Regions from separate parts of the Homo sapiens genome. Here regions 1, 2, 3 and 4 are each linked to region 5. Evidence: fine-mapped expression QTL. A gene starts in region 5. Each other region holds a variant in brackets. All regions are shown on one strand. Distances are between the middles of the regions.

Region 1 (4,121 bases), 71 kb before region 5:
GCCACCATGCCTGGCCTTTCTTATGAAGACTAGCAGAACTACAATTATGAAGAAAAAGTCGGCTTGGAGCCTCAACCCCAGGAACTTTCTCAGGTGGAGTACATCTGGAAGTTGAGGATCTGGAAATGAATTTCCTTAAATATATCCATGCATGAGTACCGCTTACCAAGCCTTCATTTACTTTACGGCTATTGCATACCCCATTTGAAAACCAGTGTTGCAAAGGACTGGGGGCAATCTGAAACTACTGGGTTCCTGGAACCTGGCACTGATTGATGGGGCCAGTGGGCCCTAATGAGATTGCACCTCCATTTTAAAAGCGTGAAAGGTATAAGGAGATTCAGAGATAGGTGTAAATGGCTTGCGGGAGCCTCCAAAATTTTCAGGTCCAGGTACCTCCCACCCCTTCAAGGGACTGTCTGATACTATTCTATGGCTCCTGGAATGAAGAACCAGTCATCAGGACCTGCTGGCCTCTATTAAATTAAGAGTCCAGTCAGATTTAACAACCTGAAGATGAGGTGTAACTGTGAAGCAATATATGGCTGATTTTTTAACACACCCATCCAAATACATCCACTCCAGCTGATTCATTCTCTCAACTCCCATGTGCTAGGTAATGTATGAGGTGCCAGAGTTACCCAAAAAACAAACAAAGCACAATCCATAGGCCAAGTCCTGCAGAAACTCTAGGAGAGAAACTTTTAAAGAAATAATTATAAAAACACTGTGATCGGCTGGGCGTGGTGGCTCACGCCTGTAATATCAGCACTTTGGAAGGCTGAGGCAGGAGGATCACCCGAGATCAGGAGTTTGAGACCAGCCTGGCCAACATGGTGAAACACCATCTCTACTAAAAATATAAAAAAATTAGCTGGGTGTGGTGGCTCACAACTGTAATCCCAGCTACTTGGGAGACTGAGAGCAGGAGAATTGCTTGAACCTAGGAGGCAGAGGTTGTAGTGAGCCAAGATCATGCCACTGCACTCCAGCCTGGGTTACAAGAGTGAAACTCTGTCTCAAGAAAAAAAAAAACAAACACTGTGATAAAGAGTTAATAAAACTATGTGCAAGAGCTAGGGGAGTACTGAAGAAAGAGTGATTTGAGTAAGAACTTTGTAAGACTTTGAGTAAGAACTTTTTAAGACTTTGGGAAAACTTCCCAAAGGAGGTCACATTAGAGTTATTTATTGGCAGGCGTGTAGTACATCATAGAGAAAAAGAGATGGCAGTGGAAGGATGTTCCAGGCAGAGGATGCAGCATGTCACATGGGCAGCCAGTGTCCAAGTGACACTCAAGGGGCAAGACCTGCTTCATGGACTTGTGACCTCTGTAGTCACACAGGGCCCCCCTCTTAGAAGGGCCCTCACGCTTGTTTTAATGTTCTGCTGTCATCATTTTGAAATTCTTATTTTTTTTTTAACAAGGAGACTTGCATTTTCATTTTTGCACTGGGCCCTGCAAATTACGTAGCAGGTCCTGCAAGAGGGCAAGATGAAGGCAGGGAGACCTGCTGGGAAGTTATTACTGCGGTCCAAGTAAGAGATAATGAAGGGGCTAAATCAAGGTCTTGTCGTAACAGTAATACACAGCCACACCATTTTCAACTTCTTCCCAGTGTATTCCTCAGTTTAGATGTAGCAATTTCCCCAACTGGAAAGTACTTAGGTTGATTTTGGTGTTTTGTAATTACAAAGAATGAGGCAATTGAATAATTTGCTACAAATAATTTTGTGTTTGCACCTATGCAAGGATATCTATCTAGGATAAATTCTCAGAATTAGAATTGATGGGTCAAAGGTATGCTCATTTTCAAGGTTGATAGGCATTGCCAGTTGGTGACCTGAAGAGAGTAAACCAATTTGTATCTCTTCCAACAGTATGGAGGAGTATCTGTTTTATCATGCCCTCTTTAACACTCTGTAGTATCCAACCTTTTGGTATTTGCAGTCTGATAATGTTAAGAAAGCAGTGGCTGATTGTCTTAATTTGCCTTTCTTTAATTACAAACATGGTTGGTCATTTAAAAAATTATTATAGGAGTCTGTTCAGGCCAGGCACAGTGGCTCACGCCCATAATCCCAGC[A/T]CTTTGGGAGGCCGAGGCAGATGGATCACTTGAGGCCAAGAGTTCCAGATCAGCCTGGCCAACACGGCAAAACCGCGTCTCTACAAAAAACACAAAAAAATTAGTCAGGTATGGTGGCATGTGCCTGTAGTCCCAGCTACTTGGGAGGCTGAGACATGAGAATCGCTTGAACCAAGGAAGCAGAGGTTGCAGTGAGTTAAGATCGTGCCACTGCACTCCATCCTGGGTAACGGAGCGAGACTGTCTCAAAAAAAAAAAAGAGTCCATTTATATTTCTGTTTGCATGAAGCCCATTTAGTCCTTCGCCATTATTGAATTGGGTCATAGGTCTTTTTCTTATTGGTTTATAACAGCTGTTTTACGTTAAAAAAATAATAATAAATATTTTACCTAGTTTATAGTTTGTTGCTTTATTTCTGCTTTTTTTTTGGCCATGCAGATGAAGGCCTGAATTTTTGAAACCTAAGTGAACTGTTACTGCTTTCACTGTATACCAGTATTTTGCAATATAAGCCCTCTTTTCAGGGAGTGGCCTTTAGAGACTATTACACTTATTTTTTTAGAAGCTCAGCTTGTTCATTTGGAGAACATACAATATTAAAGGGAAAAAATGCTCAGCTTGTACTTATTTTTTGAAGAGATAATATATCCACATGATTAAAAAGTCAAAAGATACAAAAAGGTATACAGTGAGAAAAATCTCCTTCCAGCCAGGCATGGTGGCTCCCACCTGTAATCCCAGCACTTTTGGGAGGCCAAGGCAGGCGGATCACATGAGGCCAGGAGTTCGAGACCAGCCTGCCCAACATGGTGAAACACTGTCTCTACTAAAAATATAAAAAATAGCTGGGCTTTGTGGTGTTTGCCTGTAGTTCTAGCTACTTCGGAGGCTGAGGCAAGAGAATTGCTCCAACCCAGGAGGCAGAGGTTTCGGTGAGCCGAGACTGTGCCACTGCACTCCAGCCTGGGTAACAGAGCGTGACTCCATCTCAAAAAAATAAAATAAAATAATTAAAAAAAATTAAAAAATAAAAATAAAAATTGCCTTCCCACCCTGTCCTCAAACCACTTAAGCTTCCCTCCAGGAAGTAAGCACTATTATCAGTTCCTTGGGTATCTGTCCCTATTTTATGTGTAAATGAGCAAGTGCATGCACACACATGTATTCTTTTTTCCGATTATTACACAAATAGTAGCCTACAATATCCAGGATTCTGCACCTTTGCCTTTTTTTTACCACTTAACATTACATTTTGGAAATAATGTCCTAATTATTCATAAATTCGTAAGTACTTCCTCATTTTAAAAAATGGCTGCATTGGGCCGGGCGCGGTGGCTCACGCCTGTAATCCCAGCACTTTGGGAGTCCAAGGCGGGTGGATCACAAGGTCAGGAGATCGAGACCATCCTGGCTATCACGGTGAAACCCTGCCTCTACTAAAAAAATACAAAAAAATTAGCTAGGCGTGGTGGTGGGCGCCTGTAATCCCAGCTACTCGGGAGGCTGAGGCAGGAGAATTGCTTGAACCCAGGAGGTGGAGGTTGCAGTGAGCCGAGATCGCGCCACTGCACTCCAGCCTGGGCGACAGAGCGAAACTCCATCTCAAAAAAAAAAAAAAAAAATTACAAAAGGCTGCATAGTGTCCCATTGTATGCATTGGTTTGAATATGCTTTTAAGGGAGAAACCTGAGTAAGAAATACTCTCAAGTCATTTGGGGCTGGACATTGAGACTGAGTCGGGGGATTGGACTGGGACCTTCTCTAGATCCTGAACAATCAGACCTTTTCCTTCCTCCAGGCCTTTACCTCCCATTTTCTTTTTCTTTTTTTTTTTTTTTTTGAGATGGAGTCTCACTCTGTAGCCCAGGCTGAAGTGCAGTGGCACCATCTCAGCTCACTGCAACCTCTGTCTCCTGGGTTCAAGAGATTCTCCTGCCTCGGCCTCCTGAGTAGCTGGGATTACAGGCACGCGCCACCAAGCCAGGCTAATTTTTTTGTGTTTTTAGTAGAAACGGGGTTTCACCCATGTTGGT
Region 2 (4,121 bases), 850 kb after region 5:
CTCTCTCTTCTAAACAAGGCAGGGAGATGGGGAAAGTTCAGACTGAGGAGGGGCCCTAGGCTGCAAGACCTGAGGTGCCCCAGGCCGGGCCTTAGATGCTGCTCATTCCTGGCAGTGCCAAAAAGCAGGGAGAAAAAAGTATTGGCCTTGGGTGGATGGGGGAGGCTGTGTGTCAGAGCTAATGTTTAAATAACACTTTTAAGATCCTCCAGGGACCTCAAATGAGGATTTTTCAGATGAGCTGAAAATGGAGCAAAGTAATGAGACTGAGCTCACTGGCAGGAAAGGGAGCAGCCTTAATTGGTACTGGCCCTGCCTTGGCCCCGTGACACTCATTACCACAGGCTGCCCAGGAGGATGACCCGTGCATTTGGGCTGTAAGCAATGTCAATTTCTTAGCATGGGGTGATGGGGTTGCATCTGGTAGTGACTCAGCCCTGCTTCTTGTCGACTCACCAGGTTGAGGGTCAGAGAGGACTTCTTAGTTGGCCTTCAGAGCCTGGTTTAGTTTTTAGCTTTGTGACCTAGCCTCTCTCCACCTCTGGGGTCTAGAGGCAGCAGCCAGACCTGGCCACTGTCTGTCACAGGTGTGGTGGGAGGCAGGGATGGGATGTTGAAGTCAGGCATGAGTTGCTGGGGGACCTTCCCTCCTTTGCTGAGGTTTGCCTGGGGTCCTGGATGAGGTGGGTGGAGAGAGGGAGGAAGGGGCATTCTCAGAAGAAAAAAGGCTGGTGGGTGTGTGGGTGGGTGAATTTGTGCCAATGAGATGTGACTCTCTGGGCAAGCTTGTGTAGCTTACATGGAGGAGGCACAGAATCTAAGGGACATGTCTCAAAGAGGCTGAGGGATGGGCCTAAGAAGCCAGCATGGGTGGGGGTGAGGGGTGGGTCCTGGGAGTGGTTTGGTTTGCGAGTCCCTGTGGAAACACAGGTGGTAGAATTGGTGAATGGTATGGACCAAGAGTCCTATTCTGAAGACACCAGAAAATTCTGACCAGGCTCTTGTACGTGAGGCCTCTTCTGTTTTGCTTGGGCTGGACTGCGGGGTGAATGGCCACGGGTGTGGTAAGTTACCGCTTCTCCTGGGGGGAGCCTGGTTTGCATTGTAAATACTGCTCCTGGAGCCACTGGTCATGGTGGGGGCACTTTTTCAGACGCCTTCCTGGGGAATGTGTGAGGGCCGATTGTTAGATCATTCTTGGCACCTGGTTTGCATTATGAATGCAGTTGGGAGGCATAAGGGCAAGCATTGGGTCACTAGCGGGTCCCAGGCCACCCTGACCCCAGGCTCACTGCTCCCGAAGCACTCCCTCTCCTTGGTCTCTGGGACAGCACACCCCACTTTCTGGCTTTCTCACTCTGGCCTGCCCTCATTTGCCTGTTGCTGCTCCTCTCCTTAACTGTTCAGTGTGTGGGTTCCTCAGGGCTGCATTGCAGTTATTGTCGTTTTTAAAATAATACCGTTTTTTAATTTTAAAAATTCAATTTATTCATTTATTTTAAAAATTACAAATGAGAGCTCATTATGTTGGCCAGGCTGGAGTGCAGTGGCAACTCACAGGTGCAATCACAGCCTCAAACTCTTTGACTCAAGGGATCCTCCTACTTCAGCCTCCAGAGTAGCCGGGATTACAGAGTGTGCCACTGCACCCGGCAGGTTTGTTTTTTTTTTTTGTTTTTTTTTTTTGAGACGGAGTCTTGCTCTGTCACTCAGCCTGGAGTGCAGTGGCGTGATCTCAGCTTACTGCAACCTCCGCCCCCCAGGTTCAAGTGATTCTCATGCCTCAGCCTCCCAAGTAGCTGGGATTACAGGCACCCGCCACCATGCCCAATTAATTTTTCTATTTTTAGTAGAGACGGTATTTCTCCATATTGGCCAGGCTGATTTCGAACTCCTGACCTCAAGTGATCTGCTCGCCTTGGCCTTCGAAAATGCTGGGATTACAGGCATGAGCCACCTTGCCCAGCAGTGTTTTTTTTTTTGTTTTTTTTAATTAAAACCATAATAACATAGTACCAAGATTTGGGAAAACAGGAAGCAGAAAAAAATTACTCCTGAATATGATTGGGAGCTTGGAGTGTTTCCTTTCACCAGTTTTCCTTTGCTCTTTCTTGCACAGTCATAATTTCTACCGCATCATCAGTACTGTCCTGCATTTTTCTCTTAATG[T/G]TGTATCGGAAGCTGCCTTCCGTGTCGTTACTGAGGATTCTATTAAATACACGATCAACTCATCCCTTTTCCTGCTCATGGATATTCCGGCTGTTTCTAGTTTTTGCTATTATGAATAACAGTGCAATGAACATTGCATAAAATGTTCTTCCTGTATTTCAGATGATGATGTCTCTTGGGGTGAAGACCCAGGAAGAGAATGCTGGGTAAAAGGCTGTGGCTGCCTTAGAGGCTCTCAGTAAACTTGCCAAACTGCTATGCCAACCTTTAACCCCCAGCATCCAGGGTGAATGGCAGGAACTGTTTTTTATTTTTCTCTCTCTCTCTATTTGATTTTTAAAAATTTCTCTCTCTCTCTCTCTCTCTCTCTCTCTTTTTTTCCCCGAGACAGAGTTTTGCTCTTGTTGCCCAGGCTGGAGTACAGTGGCATGATCTCGGCTCACTGTAACCTCTGCCTCTGGGTTCAAGGGATTCTCCTGTCTCAGCCTCCTGAGTAGCTGGGATTACAGGAGCCCGCCACCACACCCGGCTAATTTTTTTTTTTTTTTTTGAGACAGAATTTTGCTCTTGTTGCCCAGGCTGGAGTGCAATGGCTCAATCTTGGCTCACTGCAGCCTCTGCCTCCTGGGTTCAAGTGATTCTCCTGCCTCAGCCTCCCGAGTAGCTGGGGTTACAGGCATGTGCCACCACGCCCAGCTAATTTTGTATTTTTAGTAGAGATGGGGTTTCTCTATGTTGGTCAGGCTGGTCTTGAACTCCTGGCCTCTGGTGATCCGCCCGCCTCGGCCTCCCAAAGTGCTGGGATTTCAGGCATGAGCCACCGCGCCTGGCTAATTTTTGTATTTTTAGTAAAGATGGGGTTTCACCATGTTGGCCAGGCTAGTCTCAAATTCCTGACGTCAGGTGATCCACCCACCTTGGCCTCCCAAAGTGCTGAGATTACAGGTGTGAGCCACCACACCCAGCCTGTTTTTTATTTCTCTTAGGTCTGAAGAGCCTGTTCCTTGTGTGTAGGGACTGCTCCCAACTGTCCTCTGTCCATGCATTCATTCATCCTAAGGCGGGAGGCAGAATAGGGCTGTGGTGTCAGGCTGCCTGGGTTCAAACCAGCCTCCCCTCTTAACCACCTTGTGTCCACTTCCTCAGCTGTAAAGTGAACATCATGACAGGGAGCTACCTCACAGGGTCCCTGTGAGGCTTTCTGTGCATGAAAGCATGGAAGACACTTGAAATACTACGGTAAGCCAGGATGACAATGGTCAGGCCTAGAGAGAGGAAGGGGCTGATCTCTCACCACCTAGTGATGCAGGGGCAGAGCTGAGGCCAGAATCAGGCTTCCTGCCTCCAGTGCTCTCTTTCCCTGATGCCAGGCTACTGCTGTGGATGGTGTGGTTTATGGCGTAGGTGGCCCTCTGTTCAAGAATATGTGGGAGGGGTGGAGGGCCTGGATGGATCTATAAGGTGGGGTCTCTCCCTTTCCTCCCAGAGCCGTCACCTTCTTTCTGGGGTGCTTTCCCCCACAAAGTTATCTCTCTAGGTTAGAGCTTGGGGCCCCAGCTCAGGCCTGTTCCCCAGAGGTATATCCAGGGGACATCTGGCCCCAAGGAATCTCCCTGGCTAGCCCTTGAGGAGGGCGTTTCAGTCTGGAGGGAAAGGTGAGTTCTGAGGACCCCTCCCTAGGTGACTGTGTCAGTTTCCTAATGCTGCCCTAACAAATGACCATATACTTAAAACAACACAAATGGATGACCCTAGACTTCTAGAGGTCAAAATCTGAAAATGGACCTTATGGGGCCGAAGTCAGGGTGTTGGCAGAGCTGCTAGGGGAGGATCCTCACCTGGCCTTTTCCAGCTCTCCAGGCCACCCACATGCCTTGGTTCATGGCCCCTTCTAGTAGCTGGGTCCCTCCCACCTCTGCCTCCGTCATCATATCTCCTCCGATTCCCCCAAA
Region 3 (4,121 bases), 79 kb before region 5:
TTTTAGACGAACTCTTGGGCGTGATAGTGCGCGCCTGTAATCTCAGCTATTCAGGAGGCTGAGGCAGGAGAATTGCTTGAATCCAGGAGGTGGAGGTTGCAGTGAGCTGAGATCGCACCACTGCACTCCAGCCTGGGTAACAGAACAAGACTCTGTCTCAAAAAAAAAGAAAAAAAAGAAAAAAAAGAGAACTCTCAAATATTTAGAAATTGTTAATATACTTCTAAATAATCCATGGGTCAGAGAAAAAATCTTAAAGTAAATCAGAAAATATTTGAACTGACTGAACATCAAAACAAAACATATCAAAATTTATGGGTTGCAGCTAATGCAGCGTGTACAGGAACATTTATAGCTTTACATGCCTATGATAGAAAAAAGAAAGGCCTCAAATCATACTCTAAGCTTCTACCTTAAGAAACTAGAGAAAGAACAAATTAAACCTAAATCAAGCAGAAGAAAAAGAAATTAGAAAAGCAGAATTCAATGAAATTGAAAACAGAAAAAAATAGAGAACAATCAATAAAACCAAAAGCTTTGAAAAGGTGTACAGAATTCATAAACTTTTTGACAGATTTACCAAGGAAAAGAAAGAGAGAAGACATAAATTACTAATATCAGGAATGAAAGAGGGGATGTCACTTCAGACCCTCCAGATATTAAAAGGATAATAAGAGAATATTACAAACAACTCTATGCTCATAAGTTTGACAACTTAGAGGAAATGGACCAATTTCTTGAAAGACACAAATTACCTAAACTCAGTCCAGAAGAAACAGATCAGAGAAATAGTCCTAAATGTACTAAAGAAAATTTAATTCATAGTTTAAAACCTTCCAATGTAGAGAAGAAAACTCCAGGCCCAGAAGGTTTCTTTTCTTTTCCTTCCTTCCTCCCTCCCTCCCTCCTTCCCTCCCTCCCTCCCTCCTTCCTTCCTTCCTTCTCTCTTTTCTTTCCTTTTCTCTTTTCTTTTCTTTCCTTTTCTTTCTTTTCTTTGTGGCAGGGACTCACTCCTGTTATTCAGGCTGGAGTACAGTGGTGCAATCACAGCTCACTGCAGCCAAGACTTCCACACCCAGCAAATTTTTTTGTATTTTTAGTAGAGATGGGTTTTCATCATGTTGCCCAGGCTGGTCTCGAACTCCTGGCTCAAGCAATCTGCCTGCCTTAGCTTCCCAAAGTGCTGGGATTACAGGCATGCGCCACCATGCCTGGCCCCCAAATGGTTTCACTGGGAAATTCTACCAAATGTTAAAGAAAGAAATAGTATCAATTCCACACAAACTCTTCCAGAAAATCAAAAAAACTTAGCTCATTTTATGAAGGCAGCATGGTCCTGATGCCAAAATTTGAAAAAGATAACAAGAAAACTATAGAACAATACTTCACATGAACATATACCCCAAAACTTCAACAAACTACAAACTATTAGCAAAGGAATCCAGAAATATATATATATTTTTAAAAAATAATACTTCACTACTATGTGGAGTTTATCCCAGGTAATTTAATGCTGGTGTAACATTCAAAAATAGCCAGGCATGGTGGCTCACGCCTGTAATCCCAGCACTTTGGGAGGGTGAAGCGGGCAGATCACCTGAGGTCAAGAGTTTGAGACCAGCCTGGCCAACGTGGTGAAACCCCGTCTCTACTAAAAATACAAAAATTAGCTGGGTATGGTGGTGTGCACTAGTAGTCCCAGCTACTTGGGAGGCTGAGGCAGGAGAATTGCTTGAACC[C/T]GGGAGGTGGAAGTTGCAGTGAGCTGAGATCGCACCACTGTACTCCAGCTTGGGGGACAGAGCAAGACTCCATCTCAATAATAATAATAATAATAAATAAATGAGCATAATTCACCATATTGGCAGACTAAGGAAGAAAAAAACACATGATAATCCTAACTGATGAAGAAAATGCATTAACAAAATTTAAAACCCATTCATGATAAAAAAAAAAAAATCTCTCAGCAAACTAGAGAAGGAAACTTCGTTAATCCAAAAATATATATATATATTGGCCGGGCGCAGTGGCTCACACCTATAATCCCAGCACTTTGGGAGGCCGAGGCAGGCGGATCACCTGAGGTCCAGAGTTCAAGACCAGCCTTACCAACGTGGAGAAACCTCGTCTCCACTAAAAATACAAAATTAGCCGGGTGTGGTGGTGCATGCTTGTAATCCCAGCTACTCGGGAGGCTGAGGCAGGAGAATTGCTTGAACCTGGGAGGTGGAGGTTGCAGTGAGCCAAGATCATGCCATTGCACTCCAGCCTGGGCAACAAGGACAAAACTCTGTCTAAATATATATATATATATATATATATATATATATATATGTATATATACACACATATATATGTACATATATACATATATCTACATATACATATATACATGTATACATATACATATGTATACATGTATATATGTATATATGTGTATGACCTCCGGTGATCCCCCCCCCAACCTCGGCCTCCCAAAGTGCTGGGATTACAGGTGTGAGCCACTGCACTTGACCGCAAATCACATTTCTAACAAAGGACTTGAATCCAGAATTTATTTTTTAACATTTTTAAAAAATTTTATTTTATTTTATTTTTGGTAGAGACAGGATTTTTGTATGTTGCCCAGGCTGGTCTCAAACTTCTGACCTCAAGTGATCCTCCTGCTCAGCCTCCCAAAGCACTAGGACTACAGGCATGAGCCACTGTGCCTGGCCTAGAATTTATAAAGAACCCTCAGTAGGGCGCAGTGCCTCATGCCTGTAATCCCAGCACTTTGGGAGGCTGAGGCAGGCGGATCACGAGGTCAGGAGTTCAAGACCAGCCTGGCCAACATAGTGAAACCTCGTCTCTACTAAAAATACAAAAAAATTAGCCAGGCATGGTGGCAGGCACCTGTAATCCCAGCTACTCAGGAGAATGAGGCAGGACAATCACTTGAACCCGGGAGGCAGAGGTTGCAGTAAGCCAAGATGGCGTCACTGCAGTCCAGCCTGGGCAACAGTGTGAGACTCTATCTCAAAAAAAAAAAAAAAAAAAAAAACTCTCAAAACTCAGAAATAAGAAAACAAACAATTTTTTAAAAAGGCAAAAGTTTTGAACAGGCACCTCACCAGAGAAGATACATGGATGGCAAATAAATATTTGAAAATATGCTCAACATCATTTGTTGGTAGGGAATTGCAAATTAAAACCACAGTAAGGTATGTCTATACACCTATTGAAATTGAAAAAAATCCCTGACAATACCAATTGTTGGTGAGAAGGCGGAACAACTGCCACTCTCATAAATTACTGGTGGGAAAACAAAATGATACAGCCCCTCTAGGTTTCTTATAAAGTTAAACACACACTTACCATAGGCTCCAACAATCCCTCCTAGAAATTAGCCCAAGTAAAATGAAAATTTATGTTCATACCAAAACCTGTACGTGAATGTTTACAGAAGCTTTATTCATAATTGCCAAAACTAGAAACAACCTAAATATTCCTCAACTGGGAAGTGGAGTAACAAACTGTGGTACATCCATACAATACACTACTACTCAGCAATGAAAAGGAATTGACTACTGATACACTCAACAACATGGATGAATCTTAAATCCATTATGCCAAGTGAAAGAAGCCAAATTCAAAATACAACATATTGTATGGTTCCATTTTATATGACAGTCTGGAAAAGAAAAAACTATAGGAATAGAGAACATATCAGTGTTGCCAGGGCTTAAGGGTAGGGAAGGCTTTGACTACAAAGGGGTAACAAAAGGGAATTTGGGAAGGTGATTAACTGTTTTATTTTTTTGTTTGTGTGTGGTGGTGTTTACATAATTCTTTGCATTTGTCAAAACTCACAGAACTCTACACCAAAATGTAAATTTTACTGAATGTAAATTACAATTAAATTATATGTATGCAAATCTATTATGTGTATGTTTGTGTATATATATATATATATATATACACATATGAATATTTTTAAAAGCTTTTTCCCCTCATATTACTATCAAGTCATATCTCACAGATTTTGTATTTGTACAATTATTCTTTCTTGAGCCTGAAATTAGTTAGGACTGTTTTGTTTTGTTTTTTTCTTGAGATGGAGTCTTACTCTGTTGCCCAGGCTG
Region 4 (4,121 bases), 660 kb after region 5:
GTACCTGCTATCTGTTATGTTGGTATCTTAATTGCTACAGTCTGTTTTGTCAGTCTGAGGGTCTCTATTTTAATGTTTTGTTGTTGTTGTTGTTTTGTTTTGTTTTGTTTTTTGAGACGGAGTCTTGCTGTCGCCCAGGCTGGAGTGCAGTGGCGCAATCTTGGCTCACTGCAAGCTCTGCCTCCTGGGTTCACGGCATTCTCCTGCCTCAGCCTCCCAAGTAGCTGGGACAACAGGCACCCGCCACCACGTCCAGCTAATTTTTTTTGTATTTTAGTAGAGGCGGGGTTTCACCGTGTTAGCCAGGATGGTCTCGATCTCCTGACCTCGTGATCCTCCTGCCTCGGCCTCCCAAAGTGCTGGGATTACAGGTGTGAGCCACCGCCCCCGGCCCGTTTTAATGTTAATGCTGGTCAGTTGTGCATGAATTCCAAAGGGAGAAGGGTATAATGTGGCTTGTCTGACTCCCTTCCCATCATGGCCTGAACTAGTGTTTCAGTTTAATGTTGGAATGCTCTTGGCCAAGAGGAGGGGTCCATTCAGGTTGGTTGAGGGGCTTAGAATTTTATTTTTGGTTTACAATAGCAGACAGATCAGACAGATAATTAGCCCAGTTTCACAGAGGAGGAAGTAGGAATGATGCTGGTTGAGTGAGTTGTCCCAGAGTTGAAATCCAGTCAGGTCTTCTGACTGAGAGTCCAGTCCCACTCACTGTGTGTGACCACAGTGGGAGCTCACTAAGGAGTGGTCTCCTAGGAGACCACGGATTCACATTCGCTCTTGTTTAGCAAATGGTAGTGTGTGGTCAGATGGCCCAGGTGGAGCTGCTGTCCCTACTGGGAGAGTATTTAGGAATTGAGAACCCCTGCAATGGTGCCAGTTACTCCAAAGCCCATGTCCTCTTTGTCCTCTCAACAGAAGCCGGGAGCATCCTGATCTGCCGCTGTGGTGCCAGCCTTGGAAACAGCACTCAGGGGAGGGGAGATCTCATTTCAGAAACATCCCTGTCACTGACACCAGGAGCAAGGAGGAAGCTCCAAGCTATAGAACTTTGAACGGGGCAGTGGAGAAGCCCAGGCCCCTGGCCCTGCCCCTGCCGCGTTCTGTGGAGGAATCCTATATCACCAGTGAGCATTGCTACCAGAAGCCCCGCGCCTATTACCCTGCCGTGGAGCAGAAGCTGGTGGTGGAGACGAGGGGCTCTGCCCTCGACGATGCGGTCAACCCCCTCCATGAGAACGGCGATGATTCCCTTTCCCCGCGCCTGGGCTGGCCTCTAGACCAAGACAGGAGCAAGGGGGACAGTGACCCCAAACCCGGCTCCCCAAAGGTATGTGGCTGCCTTGTACTTGTTCTTCATTCATTGCGTGAATGCTTGCAAGTTATCCTCCTAGTTTGAATGCTCTATGGAAGATATTTATTAATAAAACTGTATTTAAATTTGCTTACCATAGATATGTTTTGGTTTGCCAAAATGGGTGCAAAGTCAGGAGAGCCCACTTAAGCCAAAGATCCTTGGTTCCAGGAAGCACCCACAAAATGGCATAGTCAAGTGTGGCACGTGGGGTGGGGGGCGCGGGTGCAGAGGGAGGGAGAGGTGGGAAGTAGCAAGGAGATATGGATTAGCAAAACTCATCTTTTCTTTAAGGCAGTTTGCATTATAATTGCACCTAGATGTTAATTCTTAGCATGAGCAAACAATGA[G/A]TCAAATGTTTTGTTAGGCAGAATTTTTTCAATCCAGTTGTATGATAGCTTTATTTTGACTTTTAACTTTGAAGCCCTGTGGTAAAAATGGTACACTTTGTCAAAATATTGCTGGTTTCATCAGTTTTCCCAAGAGCCACTTTTGGTTTTTTGTTATTCAAGTCATTCTCTTCTAGAACCCCCTTGTATCACCTCGTTGCCGGTGTTTTCATCTCTAACTGCTCACTAGGCTCATTGTGCCCTGTCCTCAGTTGTCAGTGAGGCTTTGTATGATTTGAGAGTTTCTCTGTCTCATCATCCTTACTTCCCAGACTTTCTCCTGCAGGTTGGTGTCACCAGTGTTAAATACATTGCTGCATGGTGCCAAGGGGATCCTAGATTACAAGCCCCTCAAGGGAGGGGATTGTATCTCATGCATCCTTGTGCCCTTGACTATGTCTAAACGGTGTTGGGCAAGGTGGTAAGAACACAGTCTTTTGAGACAGACGCAGTTTCAATTCTGAGCTCAGCCCCTTACTGTGTGATTCTGAGCGGGTTACTTCACTTTCCTGATCAGACCTGTTTTCTCGCCTGTAGAATGGGGCCAGTGAAGCCCCCTCAGTTACTGTGGAACATATTTGTGAAAATCCCTCAGTAAAATCCCTCAGTTTTGCACATAGTAAGTACTAAATAAATATTGGCTAGAATCTATTTCATTTCAAATGGATGAATGAAAGGTTGAGTTACCAAATCCTAGAAAAGGTTTGTGGTCCTGTGGATCAGGCAGGTTTCCTAGAGGTATCTGGCACATAAAACAAAGCCAGGAAATACTGGGCCTCAGCAAAGCAACCAGGGCTAACAGTCTTTTCCATTGATGGTAAGCTGACTGTAAGCTGGCCTTGCTTTTATGTGCCTTACCCTATTTCATCCTCATGAACCTTCCAAATAGGTTTTAGTACCCCCATCCTCCCACCGAGAAAGCAGAGGCTCAGAGACATGAAGTAGTCCATCCAGACTCGCACATTCGCAGGAGATGGAGCTGAGACTTGAAACGCGTTGGTGTGACTCCCGTGTACTAACCCTTGTCTGCACTAGCCCTGCTCTAATCACCTCTCAGGGCTCTGGAAGCCATTCTGTGAGGCTTACTTTAGGCTAGGACATTGGCCCAGTCAGTAGGAAGCAGCTGTGGGTCCCCTGAGCTAGAGTGCTACCCTGAGGTAGTTGGAATTGGTACAGTGGGCAAGCTCCTGCCCAGTTCCTAAGTGGGAAATAGGAAAGGGAGGTAGGGATTTGGAGTATTGAAACTGCAGCTAGTATTTCAGGTGGCTGGAAATGCTGGCTGGTTGAAAAATGGGCCAGGGGCTATCTCCATTCAGTAATTTCCATGCCATTGCATCCCCAGGTGAAGGAATATGTCTCCAAAAAGGCCCTACCAGAAGAAGCCCCTGCTCGGAAGCTGCTGGACAGAGGTGGAGAGGGGCTGCTGAGCTCCCAGCACCAGTGGCAGTTTAACCTGCTGACCCATGTGGAATCTCTTCAGGATGAAGTTACGCACAGGATGGACTCCATTGAGAAGGAGTTGGATGGTAGGGCTCCTTCATTGGCCCCCTGTGCATTGGCATGCAGTCGAGCACCCCCAGACGAGCTGCTTTCTGAACCCCCCAGTCTGAGTTTACAGGGACCGCTGTACTCTTTGCTTCTCTTCTTTTCAGCCTCTCCCCACCTCCATTCTCCCCTCAGGATGGATGAGCCTTACTTTTAGTATTTATCAGGTGCAAGATCTGCATGATGTTGGGTCCTGCCTCACTTGTCTGATCCCTTCTGTAAAGTTGAGTATGCAGAGAGAGGGCAACTGGCAGTCCTGCTTGCAGGAAATATGTGATCTAAGCCAATCTTTACAAACAAGTTCTGTGAGAAATTAAAATTTTGACTTGAGTTTTAGGATATCTGAGGATTTAATCTGAAAAACCTCTTATTCCAATCTTTGATAAAATCTAAAATGAAGCTTTCTCCTCGTAAGCCAGTAGAGATTTGAGAATTTGCCTGAGTCATTTGTATAGCCCTGAGTATTCCTTCCAGATATTGGTGGTTACGGACAGGCCTGGAGGATCAAACCGGTGATGATGAACATGATCAAGTTCAGTCTCTCTCCAGGAAGTTGACGGTTTTGGTTGTTGAAATATTCCCTAATTATTTGTTTTCATGTTGAAAATGGAGCCCAGTTAAAAAAGAAATGTTGTTTGAGGATTCTGGGTACAGTCTGGCTATGATTTTTTACTGTAACTGGGAATATAAAACATACATGAAATAACTCAGGAGAAAATGCCATCTGTTATACAAGTGATGCCATGAGGTGTGGCCGGGACACATGTGGCTGATGTCAATGCAGAGGAGGAGAGTGCTAATAGGAGGGCTTCCTAAAACTCCTGAGACTGAAG
Region 5 (4,098 bases):
GATTACAGGCGTGAGCCACCATGCCCGGCCAGCAGCACTATTCCTAACAGACCAAAGTGAAAACTGCCCAAATGCACTGTCGATGGAATGGATGAATACGTTGTGATATACTTACACAAAACACACCATACAGCAACAAGAATGAACAATCTACAAATACACGCCAATCAATTTCTGAATTCCAGGTCACTCCCATCATAAAATACACAAGGACTAAGCTAAAATCTCCCTTGTTGTCAGAACTTGCTTCAAGTCCTAAGGGCATGGTTAGAGATCAGAGTATTTTAACTGAATAGGAAAATACTTTGAGGTCACTAGGCTTAAGTTTTTGTTGTTGTTGTTTTTTGTTTTTTGTTTTTTTTTGAGACACAGTTTCACTCTTATTGCCCAGGCTGAAATGCAATGGCACAATCTCAGCTCACCGCAGGGTGAGCTCCACCTCCAGGGTTCAAGCAATTCTCCCGCCTCAGCCTCCCAAGTAGCTGGGATTATAGGTATGCGCCACCACACCCGGCTAATTTCTGTATTTTTAGTAGAGACGGGGTTTCTCCATGTTGGTCAGGTTAGTCTCGAACTGCTGACCTCAGGTGATCCACCTGCCTCGACCTCCCAAGCAGGCTTAAGATTTTTAAAAATTAAAGTAAAAGTAAAAAAATAAAATAAACAGACTTCTAAAAGTGACCTCAATGAGCAGAACTAAGAAACAATGGGCAGCAGTAATGGAAGACAGATCCAGCTTAATGAAAGGACCGGCCGGGCGCAGTGGCTCACGCCTGTAATCCCAGCACTTTGGGAGGCCGAGGTGGGAGGATCACCTGAGGTCAGGAGTTCAAGACCAGCCTGGCCAACATGGTGAAACTCCATCTCTACTAAAAATACAAAAAAATTAGCCGGGTGTGGCGGGATGCGCCTGTAATCCCAGCTACTTGGGAGGCTGAGGCAGGAGAATCACTTGAAGAGAGTGTTGCAGTGAGCCAAGATCGTGCCATTGCACTCCAGCCTGGGCAACAAGAGCGAAAACTCCATCTCAAAAAAAAATAATAATAATAATAAAAAGGAAAGGACCAACGACCAGAATTAACAGTGCTGACAGGTAGGAAGGTAGGGTAGAGATGTGGTAAAGGGAATTTAAGATTCCAACGTAACTGAGCAGGAAGACCGCATATCTTAGCTAATCTTTACAGAGACAGAAATGGATGCTTAGAAAGAGAAAGCACCTTGCCCAGTCAGTGGCAGGGAGAGATGAGATACAAATCCTCGGCTGGGTATAGTGGCTCTCGCCTATAATCCCAACACTTTAAGAGACCAAGGTAAGAAGATCACTTGAGCCCAGGAGATCAAGGCCAGGCTGGGCAACACAGGGAGGCCGCGTCTCTACCAAAAATGTAAAAATTAGCCAGGTGTGGTGGCACGTGCCTGTGGCCCTAGCTACCTGGTAGGCTGAGGTGGGAGGATCACTTGAGCCTAAGAAGTTGAGGATGCAGACAGCTGTGATCTTGCCACTGCACTCCAGCCTGGGCGAAAGAGCAAAAATCTGGCCTCAAAAAAAAAAAAAAAAGAGAAAAATCCTTCTCCAACACTAGGAACTAGGTGTGGAACTTACTGAGTCACTTAGGTCAAGTCTCAACTTCCTCATCAGTCAAGTTAGGCCAGTAACTCCTACCTTCTAGTGTCTTTGTGACGAAGGAATGAGAACAGGAGTGAAAGCACTTTACATTATTTGTTATTACTATTATCCAGCAGCCTTTGCTAGAGGGTTGCCCCGATCTCCTGACGCTTGGCCTGAGAGATTCTATAGTGCCCAGAGATAACAGATGATACCCTGGGAATCCCTAGGTCACTCCGGGTTCCCTCCGGGGGTGTAATTAATGGTGCTTGGAGACCACTCCCTCCCTCGGCGTCCTCCACCTGCCTTACCCACACACATGCGCCCGATGATGCGGCAGCCGGCGATAGACGCGTGCACCACGGGGATGGTATCGGAGAGCTCGCCCTCGAACACACTGTAGGGACATGGACTCGGTGGTGGCGGGGCAGAGGGGCCGGCACCCTCCCACTGCCGGAGCTCTTGACTCCTGCGCACGCCTCCCCGCCACCGTAAGCCCCGGGGCTCCCGCCGCACCTGTAGAAGTTCTCTGAGCCTCCGATCGCTACCAGACAGTAGGTGTTGGTGAGCTTGGCAAAGCAGCCGATCTCACAGTTGTTCTCGAACGAAGCTCGGACCGCCATGAGGCCTAGGGGCGGCGGAGGCGGGAGTTCAAGGCCGGCGGATCCTTTCCCAAGTATCCCGGCCTCCGTCCCTCAGGCCCCGCCGCGACCCCGCCCCTCTCGGCCTCCCGGCCCCTCCGTCCTCGGGTCCCGCCCACTGGGCCCCCACCAGAACCTCCGGCCCTGAATCCTCTGGCCCCCACCCCTCCCGACCCAGGACCGGAGCTGACCCTCCCAGGTTCCCCTCACACCAGCTTACCAAGTAACCAGTAACAAGCTCCGCACGCGGCGACTGTACCTTGGACTCCCTAAAAAGGTTTCCGTTTCCACTTCCGTCCAGGGAGACTTCCGGGAGAGCCCGGCGCTCCCCGCCACGCATCCAGCCCCTCTACCTCCGGCCTCCGGCGGACTCTATGGTCGCGAGCGGTCTGGGCGCGACCCCGCCTGGCCCCACGCCTAGCCTGCTCGCGTTCATTCATTCATTATTCATTCAGGAGCTTTTTAGGAGCTGTCATCGACCTAGACCTCCGGCTGGTCGGTTGTGAGGCATGAGGGAGAGGAGGGGCCAGGAGTGTCTCGCGGAAGGGTTGATGATGGAGGTATTGATGGAAATGAAGCCGGAGGAAGGGCAGGTTTGGGGAAAGGGATGAGTCCAGCTGTGCCTTGAGGGACAGAAGTCCATGTCTGGAGCCCAGCAGGGGAGTGGAGTGCTGACGAATGAGATGAGGGGCTGAAGACGGGTGGACTAGAAGAGGCTACCCATGGAGAGAGTTCCAGGAGGCAGAAGTGCGGCCAGACCGAGGCTGGAGAAAGAGCGCAGCCAGAGACGGAAAGGCAGCCAGGCTGCAGGTGCTGGAGAGAGGGGAGGACTGAGGAAGCAGGGGCTCAGGAAAAGGCTGGAAAGGGGTCCAGGGTGGGCAAGGATGTGGGTGCTGGTTGGCTTCCACGATGTGCCTCTCGCACGGCCTCTATCACTCACTCAGCAGCCAACTTCTGTCCCCAGGATAGTGATGGGGGCCAAGGGCCCTGCTGCACACTTGGACAGGATGAACTTGGCCCACATTTTGTAGAATCTGCAAAAGCCCCGGGTTCTCTCAAAATGTCACAGTGGTAACTTGGAGCCCCTGGACTCCCCCAATTCCTCCTTCGGCATTCACCCTCCTCCAGGGGTTTCCCCATAATTGGCCTGAATGGTGCCCTTCCCATTCCCCCAACGTGTCCCTCCCATAACTCCTCAAAGTTCAGGATACACCAGGCGCTGTGATTCACAATAAAGTCTGCCTTTATTGATGTGTATCATGTTTACTATCCCGGGTAAGTGGTGAGTTCAGGAAAATGGCCCACAACCTGTCACAGCCTGTACTTCAAGAGACACTCAGCAAGATGATGACGACGACAATGATGATGATGATGATGATGACTCAGCAAGATGATGACGACGACAATGATGATGATGATAATGATGATGTGTGTGTGTGTGTGTTTCCGGGTATCCACATACTCTGCTCTTCCTCACTCATTCACCTCAGACCCACTCAGTCCTCTTTAGGGCATCTCTTTCACCTGATTCTCTCTACCAAAAATTTTTCTAACTCTCTCCTCCCTCTGTCCAAAACCTCCCCATCCTTCAGGGCCTGGCTCAAAGGCCACCTCCATCTCCTCTAAGAAAGTTTTCTGACTACTCCACCTTCTCCAGGACTCTCTGCCCTTTGTTTTCTAACACCCTCTGTAACTGGTTAACCTTTAACTTGATATGGCTCTGACCCCTTCTCCAGCAGCTTGTGCATTTCACCTCTGTCCCCAGGTCTGAGTGTGACCCACCTGTCAGCTCTACAGGCCCAGCACAGGGCTGGAAACACAGCCTAGATTCAAGAAGATACTAGTTAGGGT

What was found. PIP is the estimated chance that this variant, and not a neighbour inherited with it, causes the effect. A credible set is the group of variants that fine-mapping cannot tell apart.
Region 1: its variant is the best candidate, but not a certain one, in a credible set for the expression of EIF6 in whole blood (TOPMed, PIP 0.83).
Region 2: its variant is the best candidate, but not a certain one, in a credible set for the expression of EIF6 in whole blood (TOPMed, PIP 0.80).
Region 3: its variant is the best candidate, but not a certain one, in a credible set for the expression of EIF6 in whole blood (TOPMed, PIP 0.90).
Region 4: its variant is the best candidate, but not a certain one, in a credible set for the expression of EIF6 in whole blood (TOPMed, PIP 0.58).

The regions. Positions count from the first base shown.
Region 1 is chr20:35,210,997-35,215,117 of GRCh38, forward strand. The region is part of intron 4 of MMP24-AS1-EDEM2 (MMP24-AS1-EDEM2 readthrough); the gene reads right to left. It also overlaps a transcript of PROCR not described here. Among named protein-coding and RNA genes, the nearest start is that of MMP24, 14 kb to the right of the region's middle. The variant A/T (reference allele first, on the strand shown) is at 2,088.
Region 2 is chr20:36,128,274-36,132,394 of GRCh38, forward strand. It overlaps a transcript of EPB41L1 not described here. Among named protein-coding and RNA genes, the nearest start is that of EPB41L1, 24 kb to the right of the region's middle. RefSeq lists an enhancer at 714-1,215. The variant T/G (reference allele first, on the strand shown) is at 2,170.
Region 3 is chr20:35,203,458-35,207,578 of GRCh38, forward strand. All of the region lies in intron 4 of MMP24-AS1-EDEM2 (MMP24-AS1-EDEM2 readthrough), which reads right to left. It also overlaps a transcript of PROCR not described here. Among named protein-coding and RNA genes, the nearest start is that of MMP24, 21 kb to the right of the region's middle. The variant C/T (reference allele first, on the strand shown) is at 1,740.
Region 4 is chr20:35,937,779-35,941,899 of GRCh38, forward strand. PHF20 (PHD finger protein 20) reads left to right here. Exons shown (of 18, transcript NM_016436.5): 16 at 919-1,330; 17 at 3,086-3,269. Among named protein-coding and RNA genes, the nearest start is that of SCAND1, 15 kb to the right of the region's middle. The variant G/A (reference allele first, on the strand shown) is at 1,705.
Region 5 is chr20:35,282,259-35,286,356 of GRCh38, forward strand. It overlaps EIF6 (eukaryotic translation initiation factor 6), which reads right to left and starts at 2,514. Exons shown (of 7, transcript NM_002212.4): 1 at 2,468-2,514; 2 at 2,123-2,234; 3 at 1,918-2,003. The coding sequence starts at 2,229. FAM83C (family with sequence similarity 83 member C) reads right to left here. Exons shown (of 4, transcript NM_178468.6): 4 at 3,473-4,098. It overlaps FAM83C-AS1 (FAM83C antisense RNA 1), which reads left to right and starts at 2,993. Exons shown (of 2, transcript NR_109815.1): 1 at 2,993-3,057; 2 at 3,212-3,514. RefSeq lists a silencer at 2,244-2,433 and an enhancer at 2,526-3,076.